3 linked regions of the Homo sapiens genome follow. The protein of the gene in region 3 interacts with the protein of the main gene of each other region in a pairwise test. Each region holds a gene or a part of one and is shown on either strand. Other genes may lie near its edges. The genes, in order: RIIAD1, TPTEP2-CSNK1E and ZNF618.

Region 1 (3,042 bases), on a different chromosome or scaffold from region 3:
TCAGGTCCTGTACTTTCACAGATGAACCTGAGACACAACCATCTTGGGAGTCAATAAATCCGCAGACTCCTGACAAAGACCCTTTCATTCATGATTTTCCTTCAACTCCGTATCTAAGGCAAGGAGTGAAGCATCCTAAATGGCAATACACTAGGATATTGCTTACGTCGAGAAAGAGCTGTGCTGCAGCCAAGTGGGGCTTGTCATTCCGTCAACAATCTTGTTTATGTGTGCATTTATTTATTTATTTGAGACAGCGTCTTGCTCTGTCACCCAGCCTGGAGTACAGTGGCGCGATCAACCTCCCTGGCTCAAGAGATCCTCCCATCTCCAGCCTCTCGACTAGCTGGGACTACAGGCATGTGCGATGGCTAATTTTTTTTTGTAGCGGCAGAGTCTTACTATGTGGCCCAGGCTGGTTTCTAACTCCCAGGCTCAAGCGATCCTCCTACTTCGGCCTCCCAAAGTGCTGGGATTACAGGCGTGAGCCACGGCACCCGGCCTCAACGATCATTTTCACTGAACCAGATCTCAAGCCAGGGGCAAGAGGCAAAGATGAAGAACATGCCGGCCGGCCCACGAATGGTGGGAGATATGCAGCCCCACAATGTCCTGAGTAAGCTTAACCATGAATTCAAGGGGCAGAGGGAGATACAATAAACAGAGCTAAAAGATGGACCGCAGATGGTTATTGGCCCCTCAGTCCAGCAAGGAGACACTGTGGTAACACCTGCAGGGCCAATGCCACTAGAGAGTTGAAAATGCCTTACATTGCATAGAGTTTTATGGTTCATAAAGTATGTTCACAAATATTGTCTCACTTTACAACAACCCTGTGAAACAACCATTATTATGCCCCCATTTTACATCCAAAGAAACCAAGCCTTCAAAAGATTAATGATTTGCCCAAGTTCATAAACTTGGTAAATGAAGTAAAGAGGGCCCAGGTCTTGTGACTCCAAGGTCAGTGCCCTCTATAATATGTTCTCTTGGCCAAGGCCTCCCAACTCCCCAAGAAGCCCCTCCTTCCTAACCTTCAAGAATTTTGCCCCCCTTCTCCTTCAATTCATTTTGATAATTATTGGGCACAAATTATGTGCAAGTAATTGCACTAGATATGAGTGACTGCTTTTTTCAAAATAAAATAAAATATAGCCCTACCTCAAATAATTTACAGGTAAGTAAAAAGGAAGAGGTTAGTTTCCAAATGTCCAAAAGGCCAAGGAACCTCTGACAAGTGCTAAAGAGGAGTATTAAATAGTGCTCTGGGAGATCAGAGTGGGGAGAGAGGTTACTGAGAGGGGGACCCCAACAATCTTCACAGAGCAGCTGGCATTTGAGAGGACCCTTGAAGTACACATGGGATTGTAGTAGGCAGGATGAGGGTTGAGGGACAAAAACATTCCAGATCCAGGGAAACAGCAAGAGCAAAGGCCCAGAAAGAGAAACAGTTTGTGTTCTATAGACTATGACTTCCTTGAGAGTAGGAAGTGGGTTGTAGACACCTTTCTATCTTGAGTCCAAAAGAGCACTCAAGAGGCATCTGTGCCTGAGCTCCATAGGGTCAGCAGAATGAGCAGAAATGTGGTCTGGCTTGAGTGAGGGACGCATGCAGGGAGTAGTGGGAAACAGAAGAGGTTCTATTACGGAGAGCCTTGAATGCTGGGGAGGGACATTTATACTCAATCTGAAAGACAATGGAAATAGACAAAACATGGCATAACACATGCTGGAATATTATACAGCAGTGAGAATGGAGGATCTACAAGATACGACTGAGCAAAAGGAAACAGGCACAAAAGAGCACATAGTGTAAAATTCCATTCATATAAAATACAAAAGCGCACAATAAATCCGTGCTAGTAGAAGTCAGGATACTGGCTACTGTTTTAAGGGGAGTGACTGGGAGGGGCACAAAGGATGTGAGGTGTTGGTAAGGTTCTATTTCTTCATCTGAACAATAGTACCATGTGTATTTTCACCCTCTGACAGTTCATCCAGCTTAGGATATGTCACTTTTCAGTATATTTCAATAGAATTTTTAAAAACAAACCCAAAAAAGCAACGTTGTGGAACTACTGAAGATTTTTCCAGCCAAGGAAGGACATGATTACTGCTGTATTTGTAATCCCAGCACTTTGGGAGGCCGAGGCAGGCAGATCACGAGGACAGGAGTTTGAGACCAGCCTGGCCAACATAGTGAAACCCCATCTCTACTAAAAATACAAAAAATTAGCCGGGCCTGGTGGCAGGCACCTGTAATCCCAGCTACTTGGGAGGTGGAGGCAGGAGAATAGCTTGAACTCAGGAGGTGGAGGCTGCAGTGAGCCGATATTGCGCCACTGCACTCCAGCCCAGATGACAGTGGGAGACTTCGTCTCCAAAAAAAAAAAAAAAAAAAAGGCGAGGTGCGGTGGCTCATGCCTGTAATCCCAGCACTTTGGGAGGCCCAGGCAGGTGGATCATGAGGTCAGGAGATCAAGACCATCCTGGCTAACGCAGTGAAACCCCGTCTCTACTAAAAAAAAAAAAATGCAAAATAATTAGCCGGGCGTGGTGGCGGGTGCCTATAGTCCTAGCTACTCAGGAGGCTGAGGCAGGAGAATGGCGTGAATACGGGAGGCGGAGGTTGCAGTGAGCTGAGATCGCACCACTGCACTCCAGCCTAAGCGACAGAGCGAGACTCCGTCTCAAAAAAAAAAAAAATACTTTCTACAATTTCATACCTGGCTATCTATCATATCTGCAGCACAAAACCTGAGGTTTCTGTGTACCTTAAAATAAGTCAGATTCCTACTCTTTCCATTTTTCAGGTCCAAAACTCAAGGTGTTAAGAGTTTGGTACGCTGTATTTACCAATATAGGCTGGAGAATTGTGGCTGAATGGCCATAAATCATTAGGATCTAAAAAACCCAAGTGGGGAGTTTGCTTCCCAGAAAGAACCCTTCAGAGCTTCTTTTGGCTTGGAATGTATCAACAGCAGATATCTGCAGAACAGACAAGGACAGGCACGGTGCTCAGGACTCTGCCCTCACTTCTCC
Region 2 (3,750 bases), on a different chromosome or scaffold from region 3:
ATACACGTCCGTGTGAAGAGACCACCAAACAAGCTTTGTGTGAGCAATGGCCTGGCCTGGGCTCAGAGGCCTGACACACACAGTGGCCAATTATACAGGACCCCCAAACTGGCCAGTGGACCACTGCAACCGCCATTTACTTTCTCCGCTGCAAGCACCATAGGCTGATTCAGGAAGATAAACTGAGGCTCAAGGAATTTCGAAGTGGAACAATACACCAAAGCCTTAAACCTGAAATGACTATCCTTTTCTGGGGGGTGGGGGGGAAAGAAAAAGAAAAAAAAGTTTCTGGGGCTCTCAGGGTGGCCCAGATGCCAGGGTCCCAGAAGTGGCCTTTTCTAGCTCCTGTAACTAAACCTGGCGGAAAACTCCCCGCCTGCTCACCCCATCCGCCCAAGAATGCGCCTTCCCGTCTTCGGTGGCCCTACCCAGAATCCCAAAATGTGGATTCCAACCCAGGCCCTGAACGTCTTCTCAAATCCCCGGGACTTACGTTGCGGCGCGCGCCCCGCTGTCGGGTCTTGCCCCTCGGGCGGTACCGCCCAGGCAGCCCTAAATCCAGCCTCCCAGGCCCCCAGCAGCGCCCTCCGCCCCTCCACCATCCCGTCCGGCTCGCAGTCGGGGCCAAATCGAGAGACAAGAGGGCTGTGCCTGAAACTGAGCGGTTTCACCACTTGGCACCTCCTGGCAGAAACTTCCCTTTAAAAAAAGAAAAGAAAAAAAAAAAAAGCAGCAGCACTTTTGGGCTAGCATTTCAATCCTTCCTGCCCTTTAGAGTTCCCAGTTCTGCTTCCAGCTGCCTTTGGGTGTTCCACTACAATTGAGTTGTAAAGATATTCTTTAAGTGTTTATAGAACATTAAGACTTAAGAAAAATCTTTAAAATTAGAGGAGGGAAAAAAAAGCCACCTTATCGCACACATCCAGGAAACGCAGCCCCGTGCATCCCTGCTCAGGGATAAGCAGGCGCCCCAGGACTCCCGGGGACAGATTTTTGGGCACCCGAGGGAGTCACCCGGCGCACCTCGGGGTCCGCGGAGAGGCCCAGCCCCTCCCGCGGTCCCTTAGACGCGCCCTCCGCCTGGCCCGTGTGGACCGTCCCGGCCATTGTTTACGGGGGAAGCCTGTCCCGACGCATTGTTTTGGCCATTTCCAACTTCCCCCGGCCCTTCCCGGGGTATCGCGGGGGACCCTACGCCAACGTCCCCCCTCCGCCCGCGCCCCAAGGGCCGACTGGGCAAATTGGGAGACCCGCCCCGCGGGGCGACCCAACTTTTCGGAACAGCCCCCCACCGCCCACCCCCGCAGACCCCCGGACCCCCGCTCCCGGCGGAGATTCAGGGAACCCCGCACCCCAAGCCCTTCTGAATCGTGCGGCGTGAGTGTGACGGCCAAGAGCGGATGCAGCCCGGGATCGCCCGCACCTTCCCGCCAGCGGAAGCGCAGGAGCCGGCTGGGGAGGGGGCGCCCTAGAAAGAGCAGCTAGAAAGCTGAGACGGGGAACTGAGGTCATCCTGGGGGGGGACAAGACAACGAGAGCCGGGCGCCTCGGGGGCGGCGCGGGAGCCTCCGCAGGACCAGGCGGGCGCCCCGGCTGGCGCGGGCGGGGGGCGCCCCCCTTTACCTGTGGCTCCGGCCCCTCGGCCATTTCCTCGCGCGGCGGCTGCCGGGACTGAGCTGACTCCACTCGGGCCGGCCGGGTTTGAAAGAGGAGGAGCGGGCGCGGAGGGGAGGGGGCGGGGAGGGCGGAGGGAGGGAGGCCTCGCGCAGTTTTCTCGGCCTTTTGTGCGGACACCTCCCGGATTCCGCGCCCGCACCCGGCCCCCCAAAAGACACGGGGAGCCGCAAGCGAGGGGTGCAGCCATCTGCCGAGGCGCCTAGTGCCTTCGCGCCTCCAAGACCCCCAACAAAAAAGGAGCGTCCCGCACCCCCACCCCCGCCCGGAGGATTTAGGGGCCGGGCTCACCTCGGGCGCGGGGCTAAGTGCAGGCGCGGGGGGGGTCCCTAGAGCCGCCAGGGCGCGGCGCGTCCGGCGCTGGGGGACTGTTGGGTCAGAAAGTGTTCAGGGAGCAGCTGCTGCGCCCTCCCTCGGCCCGCCGCTCGGAGACGCCCCGCCCCGCCCCACCCCGCCCCCGCGCCCACGTGACTAGCATAGGCCCGCCCCCGCTCCGCCCCCCGCCACAGACTCCGCCTCCGGGACGCGAGCGAGCGGCGAGCGCGCGCACTCCCAGTTATCGCTCGGCGACTCCCGCGCACGCACGCGCCGTGCCACCCTCCCCGCGCCCCCCGCCCCATACCCCTACTCCCGCCATCCGATTTAACGTGGCGGGCGAGCGCCGCGGCGGTAGCCGTGACAGGTACCCGGCGGGGGGGGCGGGGGGGGCCGCGAGGGTGTGCGCAGGCGCAGACCCGGGTCCCGTCCCCGCCGCCCCCTCCTCTGCAAGGTGTGCCCGGGCGAGGGGAGGGGCCCGCGGCCCGAACTCCTGGGTCACCCCGAATTACAAACAAAACCTTAACGCCGTTGCTCGCGGGTTAGAAGGCAGCTGTGCGCGAAAAACACCTCAGATTTTCTTCAAGCGTGAGGAAGGTCGAGAAGATAAAGTTTTTAAATGAGTATCTTCAGAAAGCTATTTAATTGTTCTGATTTTTTTTTTTCTGAAAGGACTGGGCTTGCGCTATTCTAACTTGAGATTTCTAAACTTAGACTAGGTTCCAAGAATCTACTTGGTTTTGATAGAAATCCATTTGGAGGAAACCGGGGACAAAAAAAAACAAAAAACCGCTACCCTTTCCCCTCCTCCCTACGCACAACTCATTTAAATCGTTTCCCAACTGTTTTTTTTTTCTTACTGAAAAAAAGGACAAAAAAAATCCTGATTCCTAAGGCCTGTGATATTTCCCCATTTTAAGTAAGCCTCGAGGAACCACAGACATAACAAACATATCCACAATTTTTCTACCCCAAAATGCAAACTAATGCAAATGTGAAATGGATCTATGCAAGTCGCTACCAACAAAATAGCCAAATATTTGTTTTTTTACTGGCCTTCGGCATATCCAAAATGAAAAAACTTTAAAACACATCAAGAAAAGCATTTAAAATATCTATTTCCTAAATCAAAAGAAAGAACGCACTACAGAAACGATCCGGAGCTGGTGAGCAATGCAATCTTAATAAATAGGAAAAGGAATTTGAGAAGACAGCTCAGCAAAGGGGAAGAATTTGCCAAGTGTCATGTTTTGCTGTCATTTTATATATAACTACTAACCCCCCATATGGTCTGGTTAGTCTTTTTTAAAAAGGAAGCCAATCAATTACTCACAATTAATTAGCAGTGCCGGTAGATTCTTAGGCCAGCACTAAAAAACTAAATTGGGTGAATTTTTTTTCACTCAAGTCCACTGATATTGATCACTTTTAGTATTAGGAGTCCTTTTCTGACAAAAGATGAATACCTATCTTTAAAATATATTTTTTAATCTTATTGTCACATTCTAAAACACAGTCCAAAAACACTTCATAAACAAGAAACTTCATTTAACTTTATGAAAACAAATGACTATGAGCCTTGCTACACAACAAAGAAACTATGAACAAGTGCAACCAGGTTGAGCCTTTAAGTGTAGCCTCATTCTACATGTTAATGGATAACCTTTGAACTCTGAGAACTTGAATGCTGTAAACACAATAGCACTGACAGTTAAAAATTCCAGTGTCAAAATCGAGCAAAAAGAAAAGTCCAAACTTTTC
Region 3 (3,750 bases):
TCGGTCAATATTTATTTGCCTTCTTAAATTTTTTTTTCTTTTTTGTTTCACCTTCATGTGATTCATTTTAAGGCCAAAACCTCCACATGAAATATTGTTTGCATATATGCTTTCATATTCCAAAGGCAAACCTTGGGTTTGGCTTTTGTTTGTATTTTGATTATTTTTCCTTTATTTTGTTGCTGCTAAAACCAGCTGAGTTGGTGTTATATCACATTTCTTCAGCAAAGTAAGTGTTCTACCAAGGAAGATGGATAAGAATCAGAATTTTCATCTCCTTTTTGCCCATCCCTCTTTTATCTTTTTCTTGTTAAGTCAGTAAAATTTGTGCATTTTTTTTTTTTGGTCACAAACCCCCCAAAATGATCAAGGCTAATGGATTTTTCCCCCTTTGAAAGTAATCAGGTTTTTGAAAAATAACAAATATTGATAAACTACCAACCCCACATCACAATCAAAGAGGCCTGAAACCAATCTAAATTTTTTTTAAGTAATAAATTTTTCAAATTGGAAGGGTGAACAAGACAGAAAAGGGAAAATTTTCTTCCTTACCAAGGATTCCTCAATCCTTGTCTTCATCAATTGATTCAGTTGCATGTCATAAAAAATGAGCTTCTGTGAATCCACTGTTAGTTTTTTCATAATAATGTTAATTATGCATATCTTATTTTAATGGCGGTCTCTCCTACAAATCTGTGGGCTACTCAATTTGTATAATGTATGAATTTACATTTTTTCCACTTAATATTGCTCAAAAAAGGTTCCTGACATTTTCTGGATAAAACAACAACAAAAAAGAAATGCCTAGACCTTTCAGGAAACAAAATCAGAAAACAGTCTTAATTATTCCATCAAAACAAAAAAAACACACACACACACAAAACCCAACAAATACAGAAAAAAAGAAAGAAAGGATTTCACTGTAACTTTTCTAGTTTCTGTTTTCTTTAGAATCTTAGGATTTAAATGCAGTAAAATGTAAATGCAAAATTAAAAAAAAAAAACTACAATTTTTGGGTGTGTCCAAAGCCAACATTTTAGGTTCTATTTTCTCTTTTAAATCCTTCGTTCGTGGAAATAGAAAAACTTTAAATATTGCCATATAGAGAAATTAGTCTTTTTTTGCCCGCTGAGCTAAACAAGTTCCAAATTACAATGAAGTACAATTTCTAATTGCTTCATAAAGCCAATTCTCTCAGTTTTCCCTAAACTCAACAATTTCCCTCCTTTCTTTATTCCAATTAGTTTTTTTCTCAAACTAAAATGAGTTGGGTACCCAAACTGACTTTGCTTTTAGGAGGTTTTTTGCTTTCTCCCCTCCAAGAACTAAATTCATTCAAATTCCAGCTTAATTTTCATTTACATATTATCTGGATTTGGCTTCAGAAATAAAAATTGTCTCCATGCTTCTGGAAAGATCAAAGTGAAAATTTTCACCCGAAAAAAGAAAAAAAAAGAATCTCTTACCCCTCCACTGCCTGGTAGTGCAAACTTTTGAAAAAATAAGAAATAAAAAATATTTCTTTTCAATTTTAATTTCTTTTTTATTTACAAAATAGTATCCTCTAGGTGGCGTCGTTTTAATGGGAAAAAACTACCGTTTGAAGAAAAATTAGAAAAAAAAAATTGAGAAAGGAAAATATGGCCTAAAAAAAAAGATTGTTGCAAAAATGGGGGACCTGGGGGGAAAGACCTCCCGGGGGGTCATCGGGGACCCCGAGCGCAGAGAGGGTCAGGGGAAAATTGCAAATTTGGGGGGGAGGGGGCAGAGCTGGAAGGGGTTGCATTTTTGCAAAATGTGAATTGTCCAAACTGAAATGGCTGCTCTGTTCTCTCGCCGCTTTGTTTTCTGGGCTCCGGTCCGAGCCCGGGGCCGGAGGGGGCGCTGGGTGGGGGCCCCAAAAGACCCCCTCGTCACCCCCACCCTCCTCGCACCCCGCAGCGCCCGGGGGGGTGCTCTCCGGACCCCGACCCTCCCGATTGCGCCCACAAAAAGCCCGCAAACGTGCCCAGGCACTTTGCATTTTGCAAATCTTGCAATGAAGTGGCGCAGCGCCCCGGGCCCCGGCCCCCCGGGGTCCCCCGCGCGGTGCATGCCCCCGGCCCCCCGTCGTACCTGCGGAGCCGCCGCGCCGCCCGGCTGGTTCATGGGTCCGTGCGGGAGGAGGCGGCCCCGGCGCGTCCTGCTCCTCCCGGGCCGGGCTGCTGGTGCGCGCACAATGCCGCCGCCGCCGCCGCCGCCGCCGCCGCCGCTCCCTCCTCCGCCCGCCCCGCTCAGGCCGGGGGGGCGGGGGCGCTGGGGGCGCGCGGGGGGGGCGCCGGCCCTCGCCCCCACCCCCGGCCCGCACCGGCCGCGCCGCGGCAGCCGCTGCCGCCGAGCCGCCCCTCGCGGGGCCGCCGCCGCCCCCCGCCGCCCTGCCCGCCCCCGGGCCGGCCTCGCCGTGCGGCCCGCGAGCTCGGGGCCTCGGCCTCGGCCTCCGCGCTGCCGGCCTCCGCGTGGCACACAAAGCCGGCCGGTCCAGGGGCGCGCCCGCCCTCCCGTCCGCCAGCCCCAGTGCCGCGGCACACCCGCCCCCCCAAACTTTCCCGCGCCGCGCCCTGCCCTCCCCGCGCCCCCCGCGCCCGCTCCCCGGCTCCCTTCTGCCCTCCCCCAGTCCCCCAGCCCCTCGGAAATGTCATTTTCACGCTGGAAAAAAAGTTCAGGGAGCCGGCTCTCGGCGGAACGCAAGAGGTTAATGGGAACTCTGTACCCCGCTGTACCCCCCCGCCAAAAAAAAACCAGATTGATTTTTGAAATAAAAGTTTTCAAGAGCTGGCTTGCTGGAAGACTGGAAGGCTTATTGGGAATATTCTATTGCCCTGCCACTCCTCCCAAAAAAACTAATGTAATAAAATAAAAGTTTGAAGGACTGGCCCCATGTCCGACAAGAGTGGTTAAGGGGACTCTAGCCCCCCAGCCAGACTGATTTTTAAAATAAATACTTGAGGAGCCGCTTTTATGTGAAATGCCAGTGAAGCGGCTGTTTCTGCCTATCCTTGCCAAATTAAAATATATATATGTATTTCTAAATAAAAGTTTGAAAAACTGGTCCTACAGTAAGACAAGAGGGGTTAAAGGTTAAGGGATATTAGCGCCCCCCACCCCCATATCCCCCAGTTAGGTTGATTTAGAGAAGGAAAATTTGAGAAACTTGCATGTGAAATAAAACGTGAACCAGGATATTTCTTTCCAACACCCCAAAATAGCCAGTTTTTTTGTTGTTGTTATTGTTGTTTTTTTTTTTTTAACTTGAGCAACTGCCTCCTTGTGACTTGGGAAAGTTTAAAAGGGATTTTTTTTTCTATTCTCTTCCCTATTCTCCTAAAAAATCCGATTTTTTAAAAATTGAAAGTATGAAGGACCTGCCCTATTATAGAGACAAGGAGGGATTACTGGATCCATCCTACATCTCCCACAACTGGTTGATTTTTGGAATAAAAATGTTAAGAATTGCTCTTCTATGAGATGCAAGGTGAACAGAAATCCTTCTTTGCCCCTCCCCAAAAGAAAACTGCAAGGGTACTTTTCAAAAATAAAAGCATTGGAAATTAAGAGTAACCAGGTATCTTCTCTCTGCCCCCACCTTCAAAAATCAAATGTTCTTTTTTGTAATGTTTAAAGAACTGGAGCAATATGAGACAGGAAAGGTTACAGAAATGTTTTCCCTACAATCCTCAAAAAAGTTATTTTTAAAATTTTAGGAAACGGAG

The links.
Region 1: the proteins of ZNF618 (region 3) and RIIAD1 interact in a two-hybrid assay, tested with the Homo sapiens proteins (one large-scale study listed by BioGRID).
Region 2: the proteins of ZNF618 (region 3) and TPTEP2-CSNK1E interact in a two-hybrid assay, tested with the Homo sapiens proteins (one large-scale study listed by BioGRID).

The regions. Positions count from the first base shown.
Region 1 is NC_000001.11:151,724,468-151,727,509, reverse strand, and holds part of RIIAD1 (RIIa domain-containing protein 1), read right to left. Parts: intron 1-3,042.
Region 2 is NC_000022.11:38,396,815-38,400,564, forward strand, and holds the start of TPTEP2-CSNK1E (casein kinase I), read right to left. Parts: upstream 2,102-3,750; 5' UTR 1,624-2,101; intron 1-1,623.
Region 3 is NC_000009.12:113,874,780-113,878,529, reverse strand, and holds the start of ZNF618 (zinc finger protein 618), read right to left. Parts: upstream 2,222-3,750; 5' UTR 2,150-2,221; coding exon 2,117-2,149; intron 1-2,116. UniProt on the Homo sapiens protein: Regulates UHRF2 function as a specific 5-hydroxymethylcytosine (5hmC) reader by regulating its chromatin localization.